Homo sapiens: one gene and its partner. The protein of the gene in region 1 interacts with the protein of each later gene in a pairwise test. Each region holds a gene or a part of one and is shown on either strand. Other genes may lie near its edges.

The links. Proteins that work in one complex are often made in the same cells at the same time.
Region 2: the proteins of NFE2L1 (region 1) and PARVA interact in a two-hybrid assay, tested with the Homo sapiens proteins (one large-scale study listed by BioGRID and IntAct).

Annotation. Positions count from the first base shown.
Region 1 is NC_000017.11:48,058,359-48,062,045, forward strand, and holds the end of NFE2L1 (endoplasmic reticulum membrane sensor NFE2L1), read left to right. Parts: coding exon 1-1,283; 3' UTR 1,284-3,187; downstream 3,188-3,687.
Region 2 is NC_000011.10:12,384,071-12,387,570, forward strand, and holds part of PARVA (alpha-parvin), read left to right. Parts: intron 1-3,500. UniProt on the Homo sapiens protein: Plays a role in sarcomere organization and in smooth muscle cell contraction. Required for normal development of the embryonic cardiovascular system, and for normal septation of the heart outflow tract.

The DNA.
Region 1 (3,687 bases):
GCACCAACTACAGCCTTGCCCCCAACACTCCCATCAATCAGAATGTCAGCCTGCATCAGGCGTCCCTGGGGGGCTGCAGCCAGGACTTCTTACTCTTCAGCCCCGAGGTGGAAAGCCTGCCTGTGGCCAGTAGCTCCACGCTGCTCCCGTTGGCCCCCAGCAATTCTACCAGCCTCAACTCCACCTTCGGCTCCACCAACCTGACAGGGCTCTTCTTTCCACCCCAGCTCAATGGCACAGCCAATGACACAGCAGGCCCAGAGCTGCCTGACCCTTTGGGGGGTCTGTTAGATGAAGCTATGTTGGATGAGATCAGCCTTATGGACCTGGCCATTGAAGAAGGCTTTAACCCTGTGCAGGCCTCCCAGCTGGAGGAGGAATTTGACTCTGACTCAGGCCTTTCCTTAGACTCGAGCCATAGCCCTTCTTCCCTAAGCAGCTCTGAAGGCAGTTCTTCCTCTTCTTCCTCCTCCTCTTCCTCTTCTTCCTCTGCTTCTTCCTCTGCCTCTTCCTCCTTTTCTGAGGAAGGTGCGGTTGGCTACAGCTCTGACTCTGAGACCCTGGATCTGGAAGAGGCCGAGGGTGCTGTGGGCTACCAGCCTGAGTATTCCAAGTTCTGCCGCATGAGCTACCAGGATCCAGCTCAGCTCTCATGCCTGCCCTACCTGGAGCACGTGGGCCACAACCACACATACAACATGGCACCCAGTGCCCTGGACTCAGCCGACCTGCCACCACCCAGTGCCCTCAAGAAAGGCAGCAAGGAGAAGCAGGCTGACTTCCTGGACAAGCAGATGAGCCGGGATGAGCACCGAGCCCGAGCCATGAAGATCCCTTTCACCAATGACAAAATCATCAACCTGCCTGTGGAGGAGTTCAATGAACTGCTGTCCAAATACCAGTTGAGTGAAGCCCAGCTGAGCCTCATCCGAGACATCCGGCGCCGGGGCAAGAACAAGATGGCGGCGCAGAACTGCCGCAAGCGCAAGCTGGACACCATCCTGAATCTGGAGCGTGATGTGGAGGACCTGCAGCGTGACAAAGCCCGGCTGCTGCGGGAGAAAGTGGAGTTCCTGCGCTCCCTGCGACAGATGAAGCAGAAGGTCCAGAGCCTGTACCAGGAGGTGTTTGGGCGGCTGCGAGATGAGAACGGACGACCCTACTCGCCCAGTCAGTATGCGCTCCAGTACGCCGGGGACGGCAGTGTCCTCCTCATCCCCCGCACGATGGCCGACCAGCAGGCCCGGCGGCAGGAGAGGAAGCCAAAGGACCGGAGAAAGTGAGCCTGGGGAAGAAGGGGGTTTGAAGCCCACCAAGACCGAAACTGGAGAAGGGCTGGACCTGGACCTGGACCTGGACCTACAGCGGGGACTTAAATGCCTTCTTATCCAATATATCTTCTCAGATGGGATGACTGCGGGTCAGTGTACAGGAAGAGGCAGGCACTGGCTGGCTCAGCTCCACTCGGGTGGAGTGGAAGTGGCCAGACCATTTAGACGGACAGGGTCCTCACCCTACCCCTTTCCTGTGAGGCAGGGGTGGTGGTGGAGTTGCTGGAGGTAGAGGAGCTATGTGGAGCAAAGGCCGACAGAGGGGAAGGAATGGACCTGTGAGAGGAAGGGAAGGTGGCAGAAAGTCTCATTTCAGGAAGGAGGGATAGAAGGAAGGAAGGAAGGAACCCCCCCCCCCCCGAAAAAAAAATCAAAGCGGGAAGAAAATCAGAGGGAAGGTTAAGGTTGGCTCTGGCCAGGATTCCAGGCAGCAGGTTGGAGTGACTGGTGGGCCTAGATCACTGGTGTGATAAACCCCAATTTTCACCCCGGGGGGGGTGGGGTACACAGACACAGGGTGGGGGTGGGGAGGGACGGTGTTAACTCTTTCTGCTCCTTGCATTTTGACATCCCTGAAGGGGAGCTCTTGGATATCATTGGCCATGTTTCAATCGAATGGAGCCACTGGGCCCCAACACTGGCTTTGAGATTTAGAGTCAAAGGGTAGAGTGAACAGGAAAGGGTCACGTGGTCCCATGTTGCAACAGCCCCAACATCACGCATGTCATTCACTGCCTTGCCACTCCATCTCCCTCCGTGCTCCAGCCACCCCTGAGCTGAGGCTCCCATTGTCTCCATCAGAGCCTGCATGTGTATGCCGTCCTCCCCTGGTCCGGTGTTTGTGTTCCCCACCCCTCACAGACTGCCTGAGCTCTTCTGTAAGCTGGGGTAGGGTGATGGCAGTGCTCCGGGAACTGGGCCTGCAGCCTTCCTCTTCTGGGACTGCTGTGAGGCAGAGGAATGATGGAGAATCTAGTGTAGCAGCCTCCAGGCAGGATTCAGCACAACACTGGGGAGTCACCCTTCCCTCGGGCCTCTGCCTACCAACAACTGGGCTTATCACTGGGAAAACACAAAAAATTACACAACCCAGCAACAACAAAAGAACTAGTCCTCTTAGAATTTCTTGCGCTTTGATTTTTTTAGGGCTTGTGCCCTGTTTCACTTATAGGGTCTAGAATGCTTGTGTTGAGTAAAAAGGAGATGCCCAATATTCAAAGCTGCTAAATGTTCTCTTTGCCATAAAGACTCCGTGTAACTGTGTGAACACTTGGGATTTTTCTCCTCTGTCCCGAGGTCGTCGTCTGCTTTCTTTTTTGGGTTTCTTTCTAGAAGATTGAGAAGTGCATATGACAGGCTGAGAGCACCTCCCCAAACACACAAGCTCTCAGCCACAGGCAGCTTCTCCACAGCCCCAGCTTCGCACAGGCTCCTGGAGGGCTGCCTGGGGGAGGCAGACATGGGAGTGCCAAGGTGGCCAGATGGTTCCAGGACTACAATGTCTTTATTTTTAACTGTTTGCCACTGCTGCCCTCACCCCTGCCCGGCTCTGGAGTACCGTCTGCCCCAGACAAGTGGGAGTGAAATGGGGGTGGGGGGAAGCACTGATTCCCAGTTAGGGGGTGCCTAACTGAGCAGTAGGGATAGAAGGTGTGAACCTGGGAGTGCTTTTATAAATTATTTTCCTTGTAGATTTTATTTTTAATTTATCTCTGTGACCTGCCAGGGAGAGGGGAGAGAGAGAGAGATGCTGTTGAGCACATGACAAAATAAAATAAAATGGATGATTCATTCTTAAGTGCACTTTTTCCCCACTTTGAATTTAAATTGAGAATAAAGGAAATGGACTCATTGTAGGGAGGACTGGCCATTGCGTGGCTAAGGCAGAGCTCACATGGGAAGATGGGTGGAGAACTGGGGAGGTTGACAGTGGGGAACTTCAAAAGGCAAGTCTTAAATATTGTATTAAACCTTGGGGGCAGGCATTAGACACCATGTACTTCATAGGGTTAGCCAGCTCAATCCTCTCAGGAAGGATTCGGAGTTTTTTTATTCTCATACAGCTAGGATAGGTGGAGGTGTCATTTAACCCAGCTCTTTACCTGTCCACCTGCTACAAACTACATTTTTAAACTCAACTGTGCTGTTATTTTTCTATTGGCCTCACCTGCCAAAGGGGTGCAGAGAATTGGAGTGTAGTTATGATGTTGAAAACCTGAGAAATCCATGGCAGCGACTAACATGTGACAAGCACTACTGTGTTAAGCAGGAGCAGGGCCACTAAAGAGAAGCAGGAGGCCAAGGTTTAGGACACTGGGAAACCTCCCCAGCTGAGGGGGCTAGAATCTGCTTTCCC
Region 2 (3,500 bases), on another chromosome or scaffold:
AGGAGGTCCCTTCTCTCCTTGCTCATAAGGCCATTTCTTTCAGCTTCCTCCCAGACTTGGCATAGCCAGATATGCTATTTCTCATATCCCATCTTTTTTTGCCACTCTGTCGCCCTGACGTTCTGTAAATATGCTTGAGTCTTTCCTATTTGGAGAAAGTCTCCTGATACTGGTTTCCTCTTTAGCTACTCACCAGATGCCTTGAAAGAGTTATCTCTACCTGCTTGTCTTTTCTTATCTCCCAGTCACTTTCTGATCCATTATTTCCATTCTTTCAGCAACTATTTATTGAGTGCCTAACACGTACCATGCACTGTACTAGGTTCTAGAAAGGAAAACAAAACAAAAACTCTTGCCTTCCTGGAGCTTACATTCTAACAGGGGAGACAGGTAATAAACAAGATAAATTGGTAATGTTTGTATTTTGTTTGAGTGGTAGTAAGTGCTAGAGAGCAGAATAAAGCAAGAAAAAGAGAAATAGAGGGTTGTGGTCTGAGGATGGTTGTCAGTATTAAGTAGGATGGCTAGAGAAGGCCTCACTAAGAAGGGTAGATTTGAGTCCCAATCTGAAGGAAGTGAGGAAGAGAACCATATGTATATCTTGGAAAATAACATTACAGGTGGAAGGAATGACAGATGCAAAGACCTTGGGGCAGGTGTGGACCTGGTACATTATTGAGGACCAAGAAGGAGGTTGATGTGACTGGAGAAGAGAGTGAGCATGATTGTGGAACGGGGGTTGGTCCCGGGTGTAACAAGAGGAAGGGCAGAGGCAGGTTTTGTAGGGCCCTGGAAGCCATTGTAAAACTTGGGCCTTTACTCAGAGTTAGATGGGAAGGCTCGGGAAGACTTTGTGCAGAGGAATGGCGTGATCTCACTTCTGTTTTAACTGATGGTGCTAAAACACCATCACTCAGATGGTGTTAAGTGACTGAAGCAGGCAGAGATGAAGCAGGGAGATGAGGCAAAAGGTTTCTAGAATGAGGCTGGGCATGGTGGCTCACGCCTGTAATCCCAGCACTTTGGGAGGCGAAGTGGGTGGTTTGCTTGAGCTCAGGAGTTCAAGACCAGCCTGGGCAACATGGCGAAACCCCATCTCTACAAAAAAATTAGCCATGGGTGGTGGTGCACACCTGTAGCCCCAGCTACTCAGGAGGCTGACATGGAAGGAACGCTTTAGCCCAGGAGTTTGGGACTGCAGTGAGCCATGATCACACCACTGCACTCCAGTCTGTGTGACAGAGCAAGACCCTGTCTCAATAAATAATAAATAAATAAAGGCTACCAGAATGACCCAGCTGAGAGATGGTAGTGCTGAGGAACAGAGTGGTAGCAAGGGAAGGAGTGAGGGTCAAATTCTGGATATATTTTTAAAATACAGCAGATCTTGATGAAAGATCGGTTGGCAGCTAAGAGTAGAATTAAGATGACCCCAAAGGTTTTGGTCTGGGCAACTAAAAAGATGAACTGATTTTAACTGAGTTGGAGAATCCTGGAGGAGGTCAGCAACTTTTTCTGAAAGGGCCAAATAGTAACTATCTAAGGCTTTATGAGACCTATGACCTGGTTTGCACTATTCAGCTCTGCCTTTGCTGCCAGAGACAATAGGTCAATTAACAAGTGTGGCTATGTTCCCATATAATTTTAGTTATGGTCACTGAAATTTGAATTTCCCATTATTTTCATGTGTTACAAAAGATGCTTCTTTTGTTTCTTCTCAGCTATTGAAGGAAGCATGTACGTGTACATGAGAATGTAAAAACCATTCTTAGCACTTGGGCTGTACAAAATAGATGGCAGCCTGCACATGACCCAAGGGCAGTAGTTTGCTGCCCCATCCTCCATTTTATTCCCCATGTCTAATCATCTTTTATGAAATCCTGCTGAGTCTACCATCACTAAATATCTAAATATCACTGCTTTAATTCAGCCTTCACAAGTGCTCTGGATTGTTCGTTCATTTTCAAAATTTTTACTCTTATTTTCCACCTGAAATACTGTGTTATCCACCCAGCTAGGCTTCCTATCATGGGTCCATTTTTGTTCAGCCCATTCTTCATCCTTTTGCCACTACATTGTTTTTTAAAGCACAAAGATAACTTCTCTCCAGGACAAACTTCTTAACATGCCATCCAAGGCCTTCACAGCTACTCCTTCCCTTACCTTTTTGCTGTCTCCTCTATTTCCCTTCCAATAAATCTCCATTTTTACCATAGGAAACCACTCTTAATCCCCCAAACATGTCATTTTCTTTCACATGTTTATGCCTTTACATGCTGTTCCATATTCTGGAAATACCTTTTCCGTTTCCTATACAACCAACTTCTGTTCATTCATAAAGACCCAACTCAGAAGTCCTCTTCTGCATGAAGCCTTCCACAGTGCCCACAGGAAGAGTGAGATGCTTCCTCCTCTGTGATCCCACAGTGCCTTGTCTATACTCTGTGCTAGCACTGGTCATGTTGCATTGCAGCTGCTTGTCACACACTATGGTGACAGCCCTCTTGCCTACCATAATATCATCAAACACACAGTTATTAGAATTTCTGTGGAATGAATTTCCCCATATTTACCTTGATGAAAATAGCCCACCATTAACTGGCCATGTAATCTTAGACAGATCTCTTCCCCTTTTGGTGTTATTTGCCCATTTCTAACATTAAAAGATTAGACTAAATAACCTCTTAGGTCCCTGCTGCACTGGTATTCTATGATTTCTGAGCTCTTATTTCACCCAGCTTCTCTCAAATTCAGTTTTATTGTCTGTGTAGGGTGGTCTGGGAATTACATCATCACAAAGACCTCTTTCTTTCCTCTACTAATGAAGGCACCTCTGTGTCGGGAGGAGGAGATGGATACCAGGATAAGTGGGCCCCGGCCCAAGGACACCTCCATATTAGGAATCAGCCTTCTTGTCTCATGGAATATCTCTATTTGGTTAACAAGCACAGTTCATAATTATGTTCCAGCCATGAGTCCAGGAGAAGAGATGAAATCCTCATGTAAACATTTGTAAGCATCTAAAATCTCCACTCACTGTCATGGAACAAAGAACAACATTTGAGGAAAGCCCTACAATCATTTCAAAAATAAAATACTTTTAAAAAGTATGTGTAAACACATTCTGTTAGGTTTTCAATAGGTTGTGCAGCCTGAAATCAGTAGGAAATCCAATGAGGGCTTTGCCTGAGGACCAGAGCACCAGCACAAGGAGACCTCCTCCTGCACAGGCCCTAGGCAGCATCCTTTCTTTTCTGTTTTTTCTGCAGATGCCATGAGGGTAGCCGTTGTGTGGTATCTTTGGTGCCTAGCATACTACCTAGTACTTAACCAGTGCTCCCTAAAATGCTTCTTAACTAACTGTCTGAATCATCACTGGGCATCTTATTCCCATAGAGGGAGTCCCCAGGTTACCCCAAACTCTGCTTTAACCTTGGATGACTCTTCCAGTCCCCAGATTCTATCCAGGTCTCTATTTTTGAGCGTGTGTGTGTGTGTGT